Regions from separate parts of the Homo sapiens genome. Here region 1 is linked to region 2. The links come from fine-mapping of genetic effects on gene expression. A gene starts in region 2. The other region holds a variant in brackets. All regions are shown on one strand. Distances are from middle to middle.

Region 1 (9,726 bases), 20 kb after region 2:
TTTGTATTTTTAATAGAGATGGGGTTTCTCCATGTTGGTCAGGCTGGTCTCAAACTCCCAACCTCAGGTGATCCGCCTGTCTTGGCCTCCCAAAGTTCTGGGATTACAGGTGTGAGCCACCACACCCAGCCTCAATTGGATTTTCTAAATGAGCTGGCTCTTCTAAAAAAGCCACAAAGTTGTACTCTCTATTCTGTTCCAGAGAATCCACAAAGGAGTATCATTGAACTCCAAGTAACAGGAAAGTGACTTTATGCTGGGAACATCCCTGGGGCCTGTGACACGGAAGGACATGGATAGGTGGACACACAGCCTCGTGGACGTTGAGAGCCATAGGTACCTCCAACTGTGGTCGCTGATCCACACAGATGCTCACGCTCATCATGGGAAGGTACAGAGGGAGCGGCCACCTGGTTCTTAAGCACTTCTGAGCGCACCTAAGAGTCAAAGGAGAAATTCAGAGCCAAGGTTCCCTCAACTCCATAGTTTCGACTGGATCTTAGCACTTGTGCTACCACAGTTACTGTGACTCTATTACATTCCCCAGACTGGAGAATCGGAGCAGCGCAAATTCCCTGCAGGCAGGATGCAGGCAAGATAGGCAGGCTACACAGGGCAGTGCCGTCCTAGATTTTGTCTGGCTCAGATGCAGTCCCTTCTGACTGGCTGAATCACCAAGGCTGGGCCTCCGACATCATCCACCTACCTTCACACCAGGAAAGGAATATCTGGGCTCTCAGCTTAAAGAATCAGGATAAGGCGCTCTGGGCAGGATCAAATGCTTATTTATTCTATGCCTCACAGGCTTCTGAAGGCCTGAGTTTGGCCTATCCAGGAATTAAGCTATTTTAGCACCCACAGAAATGTGTTCTTCCTGGGGGCAGGAAGAGGAAATTCCTGCTCATTACTGACTTTGTCACCAGAAGGACAGAGACTGAGGCAGAATCTCCAACCTGGGAATGAAAACTGAGCTTCATATCAAGGGTTGGATGCCCTCAGCTGCATTCATCAGATATTTGGTTTTTCTCTCTGAGCAAAAAGAGAAAAGATGCCATGGGGTGTGTCTGAATAAGCCCTCCTAAGTTTCCTATATTTATCTCCTTAAAGGAGACTCAGCACCCACTTCATGAAAAAAAAAAAAAAAGCAAGGTGTTTTCAGATAAATAAAATGAGGGCATGGAACGTGACTAATTAGTTTTAATCTTTTTTTTTATAACAACACATGTATATTGCTTTAAAAATAATATAGAATCAGGCCTGGTACGCTGGCTCACGCCTGAATTCCAGCACTTTGGGAGGCAGAGGCAGGCAGATCATTTGAGGTCAGGAATTCAAGACCAGGCTGGCCAACATGGCAAAACTCATCTCTACAAAAAAAATACAAAAATTAGCCAGGTGTGGTGGTGCATGCCTGTAACTCCAGCTACTTGGGAGGCTGAGGCAGGAGAATTTCTTGAACCCGGGTGGGGCGGAGGTTTCAGTGAGCCAAGATCGCGCCACTGCATTCCAGCCTGGGCGACAGAGCAAAAGAAAAGAAAAAAACAAAAGAATCGAAAAGTGCAAAATTACCAACAACAGAGCCCTGACCATTTCTTCCCCACCAAATCCTACTCTCCTGAGGCAACCACTTCCCTTCTTTTATCTCAATCCTCTGATCAGTCAGGAAAGGCATTGTCTATGTCAGAGACACAGCTTCATCCTGGGAATCTTCACACCTCCTCCCTGGGTGAAGCCATTATTCCATGACTCTTGGGATTGCCTTCTTCTTAATCTATTTCTGTTTCTAACTCATTTATTTATCTCACCCATTTATTTACCATCAAGTCATCTAGGTATAAACATCAAAATATTTTTGTTTTTTCCTTTTCTTCTTCTTTAATTTCTACTTTCGATGTTGCTATATTCACTTGCTTTTTTTCTCACTGGATATCAGGTCCTCTAACAACATCCCTGCCAAACTTCACAACTTTCTTGTTGCTATTATTATTTTTTTTTTCAGAAGAGCTTCTCAAGATGGTGGGCATAGGCGAATGGATCATGTACCCCTACCAGTGCTGAGATGTTAGGGGCCAAGAAAAAGCACAGGAAAGGCAGAGTTCTTGCAGCACTGGCTTTGGGTTTGCAGAGGGAGGGGTTCCCACAGTTTCTGGTACAGTCTGATTTCATTTTATTTCAGTACACCGTGTGTGTAGTTTCTTGGACAGGGTGACTGACCATCAGTGTCACCCTGTCTGTCTTCATCATTAAGCACTCTCAGGACCTGAATAGATCCCAGATTCAAATTCTTTTCATGGTTGGACATCCTATCACTTGACCCATTGATCCCTTGGGGAAAATCTCATGGTTCCAACCCTTCTGCCAACCACTGGCTTCTTTGCATGGAGTCATGAGAGCCTTCAGTCTTCCACACTTTAAATGTCTAAAAGTTCTGAGTTGGGGTGGGAGTTTCTGCCAAGTTCTTCCAAGGAATGTGACCCCATAGTTTCTTTAGGCTCTGCTGGTGCTGGGAAGGTTAGAGCCTTGTCTGTATCTCTAGAGTACACCACACTTCAGTAAAATCACATCAGGGTCTCCCTGAACTCCCTCACCACACACTGCCCTGGCCAAGGAGCCAAGGTGAGCCTGTGGGTCTCTAGGTGTGCCAGTCATCCAGATGGGGGCAAAGCTGCCAGTCCCACTGACTGTTTGAGTGATTCTCTTGGGAGGCTCCATCCTGGCGATAGGAGAGCATCCCCTGGCCCTTCTCCATGAGGAGGTCAAGAACTCACCTCTCACCACAAGTGATGCCTTTCCTACAAAGCATCCCACTCCCCTTTTCTCTTCCCTGTCTTCCTCTTATTCATGAGATACTACATACATTTATTTGTTTATCAAAAAATATTTGTTAGTTCCCATAAGAGGTCCGCACCATTCCTGCCACTGAGCACATAGTTCTCTGGCCTCAAGACAAAACAGGTTCCCTGGCCCCACAGAACTGGCATTTTGGTAGTGGAGATAATAAATAAATAAATAGATGGATAAATACATTTTCCAAAACCATGGAAGCATACATTTTATGAAGAAAATAGTTGAGCAAAATAAGGGGCTAGGACATGGGTGAGGGACTCTTGGAGATAGGCTGGCTGGGGAATACCTTATTGAGAAGTTGGCTTTTTTGCATATGCATGGAAGAAGCGAGGGAGTGGACCACTTGTTGACCTGGGGAAGGCTGTTCCTTCAGAGGAACAGGAAAAACTCCCTGCAGGCGAAGATAAGCTTGCAGGGCAAGAAAATCAGCAGAATCCAGTACATCCAGAGCAGGGAAGTCAGATGGGCAGGGATAGAAGGCAGCAGAAAGATAAAGAGGACCCAGATCATGTGGGCTTGGTGAGGGCTTTGGTTATTTGGGGCATAAAGCAAAGCTATTAGAGGGTTCTGTGCAAGAGAGTCATACGACTTTATTTACATCTTTGATTCTGGTCACTGCTAGGTGGACATCTGACTCTAGGGAGGTAAGAACAGAAGCAAGGAGACTATTGCAATGCTCCAGAAGATAGAGTCAATGGTGGATTTCCAAGAGCAGAACCACAAAGAGTGATTGGGAGTAGGACTGACCAATAATATTCGGTTTCAAGAGTAATGATTTTCTTTCATAGCCAACATTGAAGCCGCGTCTGACTCCTAATTCAGAGTTAGAAAGCCACAAGACCTCCAAGTTCTCTCCTCTCCTCTCCTGGACACATTATAGATTTTTCAGTATCCTCAACTGAATGCAAGACTGTGTTCCGGCTAGTGCAGTATGCAGGAGACTATGACCCAGGGGAGGCATGTCACATAATCATTAAGAATAGAGAGACTTGGCTTCTAACTTGGCTAGATTTCTTAGTAGCTGTATGACTTTGGGTACATTCTGTCATCCCTCAGAGCCGCTGTTTTCTTACATGAGAAATAAAATTAATGGCCCCTAAAGAGTTGTGTGTGGGACGGGTGCAGTGGCTCACGCCTGTAATCCTAGTACTTTGGGAGGCCGAGGCGGGTGGACTGCCTGAGCTCAGGAGTTTGAGACCAGCCTGGGCAACACAGTGAAACCCCTTCTCTACTGAAATATAAAATACAAAAAACTAGCCCAGTGTGGCAGTGGGTGCCTGTAGTTCCAGCTACTCGGGAGGCTGAGGCAGGAGAATCACTTGAACCTGAGAGGCGGAAGTTTCCATGAGCCGAGATCGTGCCACTGCACTCCAGCTTGGCGACAGAGCGAGAGCGAGACTCCATCTCCAAAAAAAAAGTAAATGTAGCGTGAAGATTAAAAGGTTACTCAGGTAAAGCTCTTACAACTTTAGCAGAAACAGAATAAGCTCTCAATATTTGTACCATATAAATGTGACATGGTGGGTGTGTAAAACTCCTGCAAGGAGTACTGTGATTGGCCTAACATCAGATGCAAACACAGCAATGGCTTCATGCAGTTTAGTGGGTCAAGAGAGCCACACCTCTGCCTCCAAGGGAGACACACCTCTGCCTCCAAGGAAGACCAGTAAAGGCACTCTCCTCAACTCAGCATCTGGCCTAATCCGCATTTCCTCATTGCTGTTTTCTGATGTTGCCTCTGCTCTTGTTAATCAGGAAGCACAGACCAGTCATGCTTGTGTTGCTCCACTGTCAGTCCTCCAGAGCCTCAAGAGATCTTTGGGCCATATCAGCTTTCTTTCCAAAATGAACACACCCAGGGGCAGGAAAGAATGCTCTTTCCTTGGTCATTAAGGGGCCTGGGAGTCCTGGACCAGCTTTTCATGCAGCTAGACCACTTACATGCAACTAGAGCCTTGACTTTGAAAC[G/C]AGGGACAAAAGCATCTCTTGCTAAAGGTAACTTCTGCTGCTTAGAACCCAGGTATGGGGAACTTCTTTCATGTCTCTGTGTTTAGCCTCGAAGTGCCTCTGGGAGTCTTGTCAAAGGTACAGAGTACTGAAGGATCCAGGGCTGCTTACAAGGGTGCAGGTTGGTGATCTGCTTATCCACTGTGTAGGGACAACTATTGAATCACACATCAAGGATCCTGAGAGAAGGAGGGTTGTGAACAACTGGTTCTCATTGTGGAGTGTCTGTGATATTCTTGGGGACTGTTCTGGTGCCCTAACTAGAAAACCAGAGGCAGATGATCCCTAATAGTCAAAGCACCTTGTGGGGCCCTCAGTGGCCATGTGCATGATCCTTACAGATGTCTCTTTGGATGAGGAATGGAAGAAGATGGGCTCAGTGAGGCAGGTTAGCTACAAATTACTTAGGAGTGTTCAGCTTCAAGTCAGGAAAAGTGGTGATTAACCTGCTGTGTGGAGGGCTAAAATGGAGATACACACACACACACACACACACACACACACACACACAGACACACACACGCACTCTGTCTCTCCCTCCTTCCTCTCAACCCAGAGACTCAGAGTACTAGAAGGTGCCCGTGGTGATGTGTTGGAACCTCCTAACAATCCCAGATGTGATTAATGGAAAGCATACCAAGACCATCACAGCCTAGAGAAGCAGGACTGTGCCAGCCACAGCAGAGATGGGAGCTTCCTTTTAGGGTTTTCTGGCCTTGAAATGTCCTGTACCCATCCTTATTCTCAAATATGCATCTAGGAGAGGCTCTCAGGGCAGCTCTCTCTAAAGAATTTTTACAGTAAAATTTTAGGGGGAGAGGAGAAAAAAGCATAACATGTTTCTTCTCTCCTTCTCTCACATGGCCAACTGTTAACAGCCTCCTCACCACCATCTGATCTATCTTGTTCTCTTCACAAAAGGCTCTGAAGACATCATGAACCCACAACGTAAGTGGTGAATTGCAAATCAGCTTGGAAATATCTCCATCTGACCTCATCAAAGACAATAGGATGGAAGGACCCCTATCATTTGCTAAGCTATAAATGTATTTGCTCTTGCTAAAACACTCAGTTCCTAAAACGGCCTTTGAAAATCTCGGGGCACCTAGCTCTTTTATTATTATCTGTATTTAGAATTGCTTGTTTATTTTGATGAGAGGATTTTAAAAAACAACATATGGATAACTAATTTAAATATTATGGGGTTTTTTTTACCACCTAGACATTTTATCATTCGGAAAAAGACAAGTCACTAATAGCCCTAGAAAAAGGTGAATCTTGGGACTGTGACTGCACGTAGATCCTTTCAAATGCTTTGATTCACAAACTAGTCCCTGCCCTATTTCCCCTCCATTTATCGTTATAGCCACTACTTCTCAGAGCAATGAGACTCTCTCCAGAAACTCAAAAGCCATTAATACCAGGATGCAACTGGAGTCCTGAAGTTGATAACCTCACGTGTATTTTGTGCATTTTTGTCATCTGGCAGGGGAGGCAGCACCCAAATCCTATGCTATTCGTGATTCTCGACAGATGGTGTGGGTCCTGAGTGGAAATTCTTTAATAGCAGCTCCTCTTAGCCGCAGCATTAAGCCTGGTGAGTGACAATCAAACCCACTGTTGCTTCTTGAGGTGATGCCATCTTCACCAGGAATGAGGCTGAGCTTGCATAAGCCTGGCCCTGGACCTCACCCACTTCTAGGCACCAGCCCAACAGCCACAGGAAGGTCAAGTGAGAAAGGACACTATGATTCCCTTCCACAAAGGAAATCCCATATCTAGAAATGAGGGTGTGAAGGGTTGACAGCTCCTCTTACCAAAAGAAAATATCTTCAGATTAGAAGGGCTTATCCATTCAAACAACAGCTAACCTTCTCCTTGGAGTTTCTCTCCTTCAGGTTCCAACCATTGCTACCTGTGTCCTCAGATTCAAACTCCGTCATCTTTCCACCACCAAACCTACACAGCTTTCTAAGTTGGCATCCTCTTTTCTAATAATGGGGAAATATTCCTTTCTCCCATCAAAAGTCAGTCCATCTCAGCTTCTTTCCCTGTATCCAGAACTTCAATGTTTAATTCCTCGCTTCCCTGCAAATTCCACCTTTGTTTACTGGACCCTTTCTATCATTGTCAGACATGCTGCAACCTTCTCTTGATTCCCACATTTTCCTCCTACTAACACATTTTCTTGTGCCAATCATAGCAAAACTTCACGAGAGCTGGCTGCATAATTTGCAGTCTAACATCTGGATTACTCTTCCTACTCCCCCCCAACCTTCTATTTCACCCATGACCTTCAAATACTCAAACCCAAAGGACACTTCTTGGTCCCCATGCTATTTGGCCCTTAGCTCACTAGTGTAATGGACCATTTCCTTCTTGAATACTCTACATCTTCTCCCTTTTTTTTTTTTAAACGGAGTCTCACTCTGTCACCCAGGCTGGAGTGCAATGGCACGATCTCAGCTCTCTGTAACCTCCACCTCCCAGGTTTCAAGCAATTCTCCTGCCTCAGACTCCTGAGTAGCTGGGATTACAGGTGCCCACCACTGTGCCTAGCTAATTTTTGTATTTTTAATAGAGATGGGGTTTCACCACATTGGTCAGGCTGGTCTCGAACCCCTGACCTCGTGATCCGCCCACCTCAGCCTCCCAAAGTGCTGGGATTACAGGCGTGAGCCACCGCACCTGGCCCATCTTCTCCTTCTATTAGAATATTACTTCTCATGAGGTTTGCTGGCTCCTCTTTTGCATTTTCTTTTATGACTCTCCTTTGTCTCTGAAATCTCCAAATGATGGCGTTCCTCAGGGCTCAGCCAGTCATCATTTACAAGCCCTGTGAATGGGTAATGAGCTGATCTTTTGCATTGATGAATCACCCCTACACTCATTCACTCTGCCGTTTACACTTCCAACACAGATCTCCTCTCTCAATAGTTTACCCGTGTCCTCTTGAGGTCCTCTCAGATACCTCTAACTTCATGTATCCCAAGTGGGACTATTGATCTGTCTTCTCAAAACCGCTAACATTCTCTGTTGGTGGCACTTCTGTCCACTCCATTTCCTCGAGCCGGAAATACAGGAGACATCCTTGATTCCTCCTTTCCCTCACTCTCCATCCAATCTATTAGCAAAGATTGGTAGGTCTACGTGCAAAACATGCCTGATTTCTAAGATAACATCATCTCTTGCCTGGACCACTGCCATCACATTCTCACTACCCACCTCTCACTTTATTTGGGTAGCCCCCATCCCATCTCATATTGTGGCCCATGAGATAGAAGCTCCCCACTTTTATCTCATGGGCCACATCTTAAGCATATGACCACATTTTGCTGCAAGTGTGGTAGGAAATTTTACTTCTTTTTGGGAAGCAACATGTCCTGGTGACAACTGGGGTTCTGTTATTAAGGACGAAAAACAAAATAGGTTTGAGGAGGGTGATGGAGGGTCTCTGCCACATGGCTAATGGGAGGAGCCTGTCACTATTCCCTACCTGGGGGGAGTAACTGAGTGTCAGACCAGAAAGACTGAAACATCTTCTCCATTTTCCTTTGTGTTTCCAGTCACTCTTCATTTAATAGCCTGTAGAGACACAGAATTCAGTGACAAGGAAAAGGGTAATATGGTTTACCTGGGAATCAAGGGAAAAGATCTCTGTCTCTTCTGTGCAGAAATTCAGGGCAAGCCTACTTTGCAGCTTAAGGTGAGTGATTGTGCAGCTAACGAGAGAAGTACTGTCATATGGACTTTCTATTTCATTTACTATGTTACTGAATAAAAATAATATGCTTGCAACCCTGGACTATTCAATGTAAGGAAATAATTCTGACCTGGCTGATCCCTGAATCTATAAATGCTGCCTTTGGAATGGATATAACACTTCTTTTAATGTCAGAGCATAGATCCTCTGAAAGATAGAAAATACACTTACAGGAATGTTTCAGAAAAGCCAAAGAACAGTATTTTCTCCATTCTCGGTCCTGTTTAACTGCATTCTGGAAATCCTCTAAGACAACGGGATGCTCTCACTACACCAAAGGTGACTGCACAGCAGAGGAGACAAAAAGATTTTGAATGTGGTTATGGTCTGTGTACCATAAACACATAACTCTTACCAAGGCAACATTGTAGTTATGAAGCTAATTCTTCTGCTATTGTTGGAAATTGTAATGCATAAGCCCACTTGGAGGTTGAGAATGCAGCAAGACTGGCCTGAACCTGCAGACAAATGCATATCAAAAGCACCAAGAAAGAGATTTCAACCTCCCTCTGTTCCAGGGAAGACAGTGATGCTTCAAAGAGTCAGAGCACCTTGTGTCAGAGGATCCTGGGGTGGAGCCAGGCTATGGGAACCCAGTGAGTTCCCGTTTTTAACACTCTAATGCCCTGCTTCATCTGCCTTTGTCCCTAGCCTCTGTCCCTTCCTTTGGGGGCAGCAGTCCCTCTCCTGTTACACACTCAGAGCTGAGTTACTTTAGCTTCCTCCTCCTATCCTCCTCTCTAACAAGCCTCTTTTCCACCCCCAGGAAAAAAATATCATGGACCTGTATGTGGAGAAGAAAGCACAGAAGCCCTTTCTCTTTTTCCACAATAAAGAAGGCTCCACTTCTGTCTTTCAGTCAGTCTCTTACCCTGGCTGGTTCATAGCCACCTCCACCACATCAGGACAGCCCATCTTTCTCACCAAGGAGAGAGGCATAACTAATAACACTAACTTCTACTTAGATTCTGTGGAATAAATCCAGCCTAGGCTGTGGGTGGCTGGTTCCAGGATAGAGAATCAAGCTGTCAGAGTCATCTTAACAGATCATTATGCGACTGAGTTCACTAGCAGTTCAGCCCATCCATAGCTTACCTCATTCTTACTAT
Region 2 (9,726 bases):
GAATAAATAAAATATCAAGTTGTTCAAAACACAGAAAATAATCTACGATTTTCATAATGCCACTAATATGATAGACACTTTTCAGAAAAATAAAATTAATGTAGAAACTGCCTTGTACAAAATTATTAAATTACAAATTGACCAAATGGAATGACAGTAGAAATAAGATGAAATGAGACAAGCCTGGCCAACGTGGCAAAACCCCATCTCTACTGAAAACACAAAAATTAGCCGGGTTGGTGGTGCACATTTGTAATCCAAGCTACTCAGGAGGCTGAGGTGTGAGAATTGCTTGAACCTGGGAGGTGGAGGTTGCAGTGAGCCAAGATTGAGCCACTGTACTCCAGCCTGGATGACAGAGAGAGCTAGACTCTGCCTCAATAAATAAATAAATAATAAGTAAAATGAAACTATGACTGTGTATACTGTCAATATTATATGAAAACATTATCAAACAGGCCTCACCAACAATAAGTTCTCTCTGGACCTATCCCTTTGCTTGACTTACTAATTAGGTCTCAGACTCTGTGAAATTAGCCATGAACTAAGAGAACATTGATAAATTACACATTATTCCTGTCTGATAGAAAAGATAACTCCAAAGGGTGCAGTTTTATTGCCTCACAAGTCATAAAGCTGTCTTTAAAACGTAACTTAGCCAACCTATTTCAGCCTTTATTTCTTGACTGACGGTATAAGCCTCCATTCCCTGAATTATCTTTTGATAATCAGCTTTATAATCTTGCTGATTCCCTCACTTATGAAAAATAGTAAATCTTTGACACATGCTCACTATATGTGTGTATGAGAGTCAAGTTTTGAACTTCTGAAAAATAAACTTTGGCACTACCTAAAGACAATGCTGCCAATTCGCAAACCATGTGTGGCTGTTTTAAAATATGTCCATAAATTCTTGGAAACTTCATCTTTAAGAAGGTGATATGGTTTGGCTCTGTTCCCACCCAAATTTCATCTTGAATTGTAGCTTCTATAATTCCCACGTGTCATGGAAGGAACCCAGTGGGAGGTAATTGAATCATGGGGGCAGGTCTTTCTTGTGCTGGTCTCATGATAGTGAATAAGTCTCACAAGATCTGATGGTTTTATACAGGGGAATTTCCCCACACAAGCTCTCCTGCCTGCCACTATGTAAGACATGACTTTGCTCTTCTTTCATCATCTTCCACCATGATTGTGAGGCCTCCCCAGCCATGTGGAACTCTAAGTCAATTCAACCTCTTTCCTTTATAAATTACACAGTCTTGGTTATGTTGTTATTAGCAGCATGAGAACAGACTGATATAGTAAATTGATACTGGGAGTGGGGCGCTATGTTACATGATGAACATGGCAGCATCATAAAAGGCATTGCAATTTCCTCCTAGCTCTTAGATCACTCACCTGGACAAAGCCAGCCACTATGTGATAAGGACACTCAAGCAGCCCTATGGAGAGGCCCACGTGGTGAGAAACTATTTTTTCCTGCCAACAGTCTGTGAATGCACAATCTTAGAAGCAGATCCTCTAGCCCCAGTCAAGCCTTCAGATGACTGCAACCCTGGCTGACATCTTTCCTGTAACCTAATGAGACACCCTGAGCCAAACCCTCCAGCCAAGCCAGTTTTCTCATTCCTGACTCTCAGCCTTTGTTAAATAATAATTTTTTCTTGTTTTAAGCTGCTAACTTTGCTGATACTTTGTTACACAACAATTGGTAACTAACACACCTTGACATCACTATTGGCATTTCAGCACTTTAACACTTTGCCTGTTACCCAGCAATTTGGAACTGGGTAAAAGGCAGAGGTTGGAACAGTTTGGAGGGCTCAGAAGAAGATAGGAGGATGTGGGAAAGTTTGCAACTTCCTGGAGACTCACTGAATAGCTTTGACCAAAATGCTGATAGTGATATGGACAATAAGGTCCAGGCTGAGGTGGTCTCAGATGGAGATGAGGAACTTGTTGGGAACTGAAGCAAAGGTGACTCTTGTTATGCTTTAGCAAAGAGACTGGCAGCATTTTGCCCCTGACCTAGAAATCTGTGGAACTTTGAACTTGAAAGAGATGATTTAGGGCATCTGGCAAAAGAAATTTCTAAGCAGCAAAGTATTCAAGAGGTGATTTGGGTGCTGATAACATTCAGTTTTATGTATTCACAAATATATGGTTTGGAATTGGAACCTACATTTAAAAGGGAAGCAGAGCATAAAAGTTTGGAAAACATGCAGCATGAAGATGAGATAAGAAAAACCTATTTTCTGAAGAGAAATTCGAGCTGGCTGCAGAAATTTGCATAAGGAAAGAGGAGCCAAATGTTTTTCACCAAGAAAATGGGGAAAGTGTCTCCAGGGCATATCAGAGGTCTTCACAGAAGCCCCTCCCATCACAGACCTGGAGGTCCAGGAGGAAAAAATGGTTTCATGGGCCAGACCCAGGGCCTGGCAGCTTTGTGTAGTCTCAGGACTTGGGATGACTTGCATCCCAGCCACTCCAGCTTTGGCTAAAGAGGGCAAAGGTACAGCTTGGGTCATGGCTTTAGAGGGTGTAAATCCCAACCCTTGGCAGCTTCCATGTGGTGTTGAGCCTGTGGGTGCACAAAAGTGAAGAACTGAGGTTTGGGAGCCTCCGCCTAGATTTCATAGGATGTTTGGAAATGTCTAAATGTCCAAGCAGAGGTGTGCTGCATGGGCATAGCCCTCATGGAGAACCTCTGCTAGGGCAGTGCAGAAGGGAAATGTGGGGTGGGAGCCCCCACACAATGTCCCCACTGGGGCATTGTCTAGTGGAACTGTGAGAAGAGGGCCACTGTCCTCCAGATCCCAGAATGGTAGATCCACCAACAGCTTATGCTGTGTGCCTGGAAAAGCCACAGACAGTGTCAGCCCATGAAAGCAGCCAGGAGGAGGGTTGTACCCTGCAAAGTCACAGGAGTGGAGCTTCCAAAGACTATGGGAACCCACCTCTTGCATAAGCATGACCTGGATGTGAGACAGAGACTCAAAGGAGGTAATTTTGAAGCGTTAAGATTTGACTGCCCCGCTGGATTTTGAACTTGCATGGGGCCTGTAGCCCCTTTGTTTTGGCCAATTTCTCCCATTTGGAATAGCTGTACTTACCAAATGCCTGTACTCCTATTGTATTTAGGAAGTAACTAACTTGCTTTTGATTTTACAGCTCATAGGCAGAAGAGACTTGCCTTGTCTCAGATGAGACTTTGGACTGTGGAATTTTGAGTTAATGCTGAAATGCGTTAAGACCCTGGGGGACTGTTGGGAAGGCATGATTGGTTTTGAAATGTGAGGACATGTGATTTGCGAGGAGCCAGGGGTGGAATGATATAGTTTGGCTGTGTCCCCACCCAAAGCTCATCTTGAGTTGTTGCTCCCATAATTCCCATATGTCATGGAAGGGACCCAGTGGGAGGTAACTGAATCATCAGGGCAGGTCTTTCCTGTGCTATTCTCATTCTAGTGAATAAGTCTCATGAGACCTGATGGTTTTATAAAGGGGCATTCCCCTACACAAGCTCTCTTCCCTCCTGCCATGTAAGATGTGACTTTGCTCTTCCTTCATCTTCCATCATGATTGTGATGCCACCTCAGCCATGTGGAACTGTGAGTCAATTCAATCTCTTTCCTTTACAAATTACTCAGTCTCAGGTATGTCTTTATTAGCAGTGTGAGAACAGACTGATACAGAGAGGAAGTTTAACTGCCCTTCTCTTGAGTATGGACTGGACTTAGTGACTTTTTTCTAATGAGTATGTTACATGGTGAACATGGCAGCATGTCACTTCTGAGACCAGGTCATAAAAGGCATTGCAGTTTCCTCCTTGCTCTTAGAACACTCACCTGGATGAAGCCAGCTGCCATCTAATAAGGATATTCAAGCACCCCTATATAGAAGCCCACATGGTGAGAAACTGTGGTTTCCTGCCAATGGTCTGAGTGAGCAATCTTACAAACAGATCCTTCAGTCCCAGTCAAGCCTTCAGATGACTGAAACCTTGGCTGACATCTTTCCTACAACCTAATCAGACACCCTGAGCCGAACCCTCCAGCCAAGCCAGTTTTCTTATTCCCGACTCTGTCTTTGTTAAATAATTTTTTTGTTTGTTTTAGGTCGCTAGGTTTGCTGTTACACAGCAATTAGTAACTAATACAGTTTGACATCACTATTGGGAAGTTTCTACTCCTGTTGTTTTTTCATTTTCCACTGTCTTCGGTGGGTATGCTCTCTTCTCAGCAAACATCTCAGTTCTTCATGGGCTTTATATGCCCTGGAAAGTGTCACAGCCTGCAGAGAAGCAATGTTCCCTGTGGTGACTTATCCTCACCTTTGTGAGAATGGCAATAACCCTGGAGGTAGATGTGGCCTCTGCTCTTGCTGTAGAGATGACTTAGGGCAGGTGTATTCACCTATATGAGAATGTAAGCAGAGTTTATTATGGTAAGATAGTAAATTCCTGTTAGGGAGATAAATTTAGTAATAATTAAAGTAACTGATATTCACTTGGTGCCCACTATGTCCCTAGAATTCTATAGCACTTCCCACAATGTGTTCCATGAGACTCCAATAGAGAGATAATGAGCAGCAAGTATTCCCGGCGGCTTAGGGTGGTGTGAAATCACGCTGAGAATCCTGCTTCTCCTCAGGTCCTGGTAGTTTCAGGGCCCCTCCCTAGGCCTTACTTAAAAGGCTGAGGCATCCTTGGAAGAGCAGGCAGACTCCACGGATCCCACCAGGAGAAAGGAGCATTCTGAGGTATGCTCTAGGGCACTGGTGGGACTGGAGCTCTCTCCTCATTTCAGACCCAGAATCTCCTGCTCTGTGGAAGCTGTTCTCATGCTGGGGGACTCAGTGTGGCTGCTTGACTGGATGAGACAGAGGATGTGAAGAGCCAGGTTGGCATCTAGCACAAACCCACAGACACGGGTTCCTCCCCACTCTGTCTTTCTCACCTCTCCTTCACTTTTCCTAGGTATGTAAAGAAGACATTAAGAACACGGCAAAGGCCAAATTTACATTGACTTAAATCTAAGACTGGTTCATGACCAAAAATGCATGTAGCTAGCATGGCTTTCCCAACGCAGAGAGAAAAAGGCATGGACTCAGCTCCAACAGACTGGCGTAATGAGTGCAGAATATGCTGTGAGGTTTTAAATTTGCTGACAAGAAAGGTTAACGTTTGTTACACATTCACTCTGTCAGGTACAGTGATAAAAGCAATATAGCTATTATGTTGCCTCATTCCCACATCAGTCCTCTAAGGTAAGTGCTATGCTTATTCCCATTTAACTGATAAGACAAAACGAAAATTAGAGAGGCTAAGTCACCTAAGGTCACAAAACTAGTAAGAGATGGACCTGGTATTGGTACTCTTGCAGCTTGACTTCATACTAATTCACACCCATTCCCCAATATGAAAAATAAGCTGTGTAATGCTTATAAATTCACACATTTGGAATAGAAGGCAGAGCTCGAGGCTGGGGGAATGAAGGAGTCTGCACAAAGGACCAACAGGCTTTCTAAGAAGATAATAGAAACCAGCCAGGTGCAGTGGCTCGCACCTGTAATCCCAGTACCTTGGGAGGTAGAGGCGGGCAGAACACTTGAGGCCAGGAGTTCAAGACCAGCCTGGCAAACATGAAGAAACCCCGTCTCTACTAAAAATACAAAAACTAGTTGGGCATAGTGGTGCACACCTGTAATCCCAGCTACTTGGGAGGCTGAGGCACGAGAATCACTTGAATCCCAGGAGGTGAAAGTTGCAGTGACCTGAGATCATGTCACTGCACTTCATCCTGGGCAACAGAGCAAGACTCTGTCTCAAAAAAAAAAAAAAGGAGAGAGGGAGAGAAGATAATAGAAACCAACAGAGTTGGTGCAGAGACAAAGGAGTGCCCCATAGCAGAGTGTGGCACACTTTGGGTTGGACGGAATTTATCACTCCCTGGAGTGACTTTTGGTAGCTGAGGACATCCGTGAAAGTCCTTCCTGGAGTAGGAGTGATGGTGTGCATGCACAGACACAGCCTCCAGGGAGCCGTGAGCAGAAGGGGACCTCCAGCTGCATCCAGGACTCCCTCTCCAACCCAGCCACATCAGAGGGGAAGGGTACCACTTGGCTCATAGCGCTTTCGAGAAACCCTGGATGCCAGTGAAGTCATGGGGAGGCTGTGGGCCAGGATCCACAGGGCTGCAGCTGGGTGCTGAGCCAGAGGCCAGTGGCTTTGTTGCCTGCCCTCAGCCCCGTGGCACCCTCTGCCTGGGAGGCTGGGGAAGGGCCAGGTGCACAGGCCGGGATCTGAGAGAGCGCGTGGGCAGTCCACAGGGCAGGTGAGGCTCTGAGAGAGAGTGTGGGCAGTCCACAGGGCAGGTGAGGCTCCGGTGTGTGTCACACCCACAGTTTCTGCTGACTGAGTCCCATGAACAGGGCCAGAGCCACCGGCAACTTCTGTACCCCAGATCCACATTCAGGCGCTTTCCTCGTCTGTGCCTCAGAGGCTTCCAGAGCCTGCGGACTCGCCTCCGCCGGACTGTGTAGTTTGACCATTGCTCTCCAGCAGGAAACTGGAAATAAACCCAGGGCTAGGCACTGGCTGAGCTCCATTCTCCCCGGTCCTGCGCTGGCCCCTCCGGCGGGGCCTGCCGCTCTCAGTGTGCCGGGCCAGGATCTACCGGCAGGGGGCGCTCTCCACCAGGCTAGGTCGGGAGGCCACGATGAGAGGCACGGCCTCCGATTCAAGGATCGGGAGGCCACGCTGAGAGGCACGGCCTCCGATTCAAGGATCAGGAGGCCAGGCTGAGAGGCACGGCCTCCGATTCAAGGATCGGGAGGCCACGCTGAGAGGCACGGCCTCCAATTCAAGCTCTCTTCCTCTTTTTCTGTCTCTTTCCACAAGGATCTGCAGCCCTCACCCGAGTAGCGAGCATCTAAAGCAGGACTAGACGAGGCAAGGGAGCTGCACCAGGGCTACCCCTGAGAAAGCCCCAGCTCTCCTCGGCTTTCTCAGTGATGTGTGGCTTTCGTGGGCTCCTCAAAAACAGAAACTATCTTTTTTTATTATTATTATCTGTCCCTTTTTGCTGTTTTTGATAACTTATTTATTCGATAGATGTCTGCACATTTGCCTCTTTTGATATATCTTTAAATTGTTATTATTAAATGTGGTAAGATATACATAATATAAAAATTACCATTTTAACCATTTTTAAGTGTACAGTTCAGTGGCATTAAGGACATTCACATTGTTGGGCAACCATCACCACCATCCATCTCCAGAACTCTTCTCGTTTTGCAGAACAGAAATTTTGTACCTACAAAACAATAACTCCTCACTCCCCTCTCCCCAGCGGCCCCTGGCAACCACCATTTTACTTTCCATCTCTATGAATTTGACTGCTTTAGGCGCCTCATATACGTGGAATTACACGGTATTTTTTTTTTTTTGTTATTAGTTTATTTCACTTAACTGAGTTTACTTTCAAGATTCATCCATGTTGTAGCATGTATCAGAACTTCATTCCTTTTAAGGCTGTGTGGTGTGTGTACCACATTTTCTTTATTCGTTCATCTGTCGATGGACACTTGGGTTGCCATCACCTTTTGGGTATTGTGAATAATGCTGCTATGAACATGGGTGTTCAAATAGCTTTTCAAGTCTCTGCTTTCAATTCTTTGTGAATATACCCAGAGGTGGAACTCCTGGATCATATGGATAATTCTATGTTTAAGTTTTTGAGGAACAACCATACCGTTTTCCACAGTGGTTGCACCATTTTACATTCCCACCAACAGTGCACAAGGGTTCCAGTTTCTCCACATTCTTTTTTTTTTTTTTAGACGGAGTTTCACTCTTGTCGCCCAGGCTGGAGTGAAGTGGCGTGATCTCAGCTCACTTCAACCTCTGCCTCTCAGGTTCAAGTGATTCTCCTGCCTCAGCTTCCTGAGTAGCTGGGATTACAGGTGCACGCCACCATGCCTGGCTAACTTTTGTATTTTTAGTAGAGACAGGGTTTCACCATGGTGACCAAGCTGGTCTCAAACTCCTGACCTCAGGTGGTCCGCCCACCTCGGCCTCCGAAAGTGCTGGGATTACAGGCATAAGCCATCACGCCCCACCCAATTCCTCCACATTCTCATCAACACTTGTTATTTTCTATTTTTTTCTAATAGCAACCATCTTAATGGGTGTGAAATAGCAGTATATCATTGTGGTTTTGATTTACGCTTTCCTAATTATTAGGGATGTTGAGCACCCTTTCATGTGCTTATTGGCTATTAGTATATATTATTTGGAGAAATGTCTACTCAAGTCATTTGACCATTTTTTAACTGGGCTATTTGCTTTTTTGTTGTTGAGTTACAGGAGTTCTATATATATTCTAGATGTCAACCCCTTATATGACTTTCACCTATTTCCTCCCATTCCCTGAGTTACCTTAACATACTATTAATAGTGTCATTTGAGGTACAGAAGTTTTAAATTTTGATGTAGTCCAATGTATCCATTTTTTCTTTTGTTGCTTTTGTTGCCTATTTTTTGGTGCTATATGCAAGAAATCATTGCCAAATCCAATGTGATAAAGCTTTCCCCTATGTTTTCTTCTAAGGGCTTTAACTTTCATTTAGGTCTTTGATTCATTTTGAGTTGATGTTTTTATGTGGTATAAGATAAGGGTCTAATTTCATTCTTTTGCATGTGCACCATCACCACTTGCTCCACCATCACCATCATCACCCACCAACACAACTGCCATCATCAGTATCATTATTGTGTGATGCTTCCTCTTCATCATCATTAAGAAGAACAATAGCTAGCATATTTTAAATTATTAAACATTTTTAAAATAAATTCAATTGCTTTCATAGAAATGGGATTACTCAGGTTACTTACTTCTTCTGTGGGTTTTAGTAGTTTGGCTTTCCAAATGTTGGTCCATTTTATCTAAGATGTTAAATTTATGGGCATAAATTTGTTTGTAGTATCCTCTTATTACCCTTCTAAAGTATGTGTAATCAGTAGTGATGTCCCTCTTCTATTCATGAAACTGGTAATTAGTCTCCTCTCATTTTTCTTGATTTTTTAATAATCAGATTTTAGCTTCATTAATATTCTCTACTGCTTTCTGCAATCAATTCTATTGATTTTTGCTCCGATCTTATAAATTTCTTTCCCACTCCTTGCTTTGAGCTTGTTTTACTCCTTTTTCTAGTACCTTCAGGTGGAATCTCAAATTATTAATTTGACGTCTTTCTTCTTTTCTAAACATTTATGCTATTTTTCCAAGCATGATTTAGTTGTATCCCACAAATTTAGCTATAATTTTGGGGGTGTTTTTTGTTTTTTGTTTGAGGCAGAGTCTCACTCTGTCACTCAGGCTGGAGAGCAGTGGCGAGATCTCAGTCCACTGCAATCTTCGCCTCCCGGGTTCAAGCAATTCTCCTGCCTCAGCCACCTGAGTAGCTGGGATTACAGGTGCATGCCACCATGCCTGGCTAACTGTTGTATTTTTTACAATTTAATACAATTACAATTGTATTTTAGTAGAGACAGGGTTTCACCATGTTGGCCAGGCTGAACTCTTGATCTCAAGTGATTCAAGTGATTAGTATTTGCATGATACATCTTTCTCCACCTTCTTACCTTTAAACTGTCTACAGTTTTATATTTCAAGAGGGTTTCTTACAGACGCTATATATTTAGATCTTGCATTTTTATCC

Which allele goes with the higher level. Positions count from the first base shown, and alleles are read on the strand shown. Sizes are in standard deviations (SD) of each study's normalised expression.
With allele G in place of C in region 1, the expression in esophagus mucosa of the gene that starts at base 4,931 in region 2 is higher (moderate effect, 0.43 SD a copy in GTEx).

Evidence for each region. PIP is the estimated chance that this variant, and not a neighbour inherited with it, causes the effect.
Region 1: its variant is the best candidate, but not a certain one, in a credible set for the expression of IL36B in esophagus mucosa (GTEx, PIP 0.68).

Annotation. Positions count from the first base shown.
Region 1 is chr2:113,027,773-113,037,498 of GRCh38, reverse strand. It overlaps IL36B (interleukin 36 beta), which reads left to right. Exons shown (of 5, transcript NM_173178.3): 2 at 5,733-5,802; 3 at 6,344-6,451; 4 at 8,421-8,560; 5 at 9,384-9,726. The coding sequence starts at 5,790. The coding sequence ends at 9,596. Among named protein-coding and RNA genes, the nearest start is that of IL36B, 20 kb to the left of the region's middle. RefSeq lists a silencer at 3,113-3,407. The variant G/C (reference allele first, on the strand shown) is at 4,816.
Region 2 is chr2:113,048,072-113,057,797 of GRCh38, reverse strand. IL36B (interleukin 36 beta) reads left to right here and starts at 4,931. Exons shown (of 5, transcript NM_173178.3): 1 at 4,931-4,981.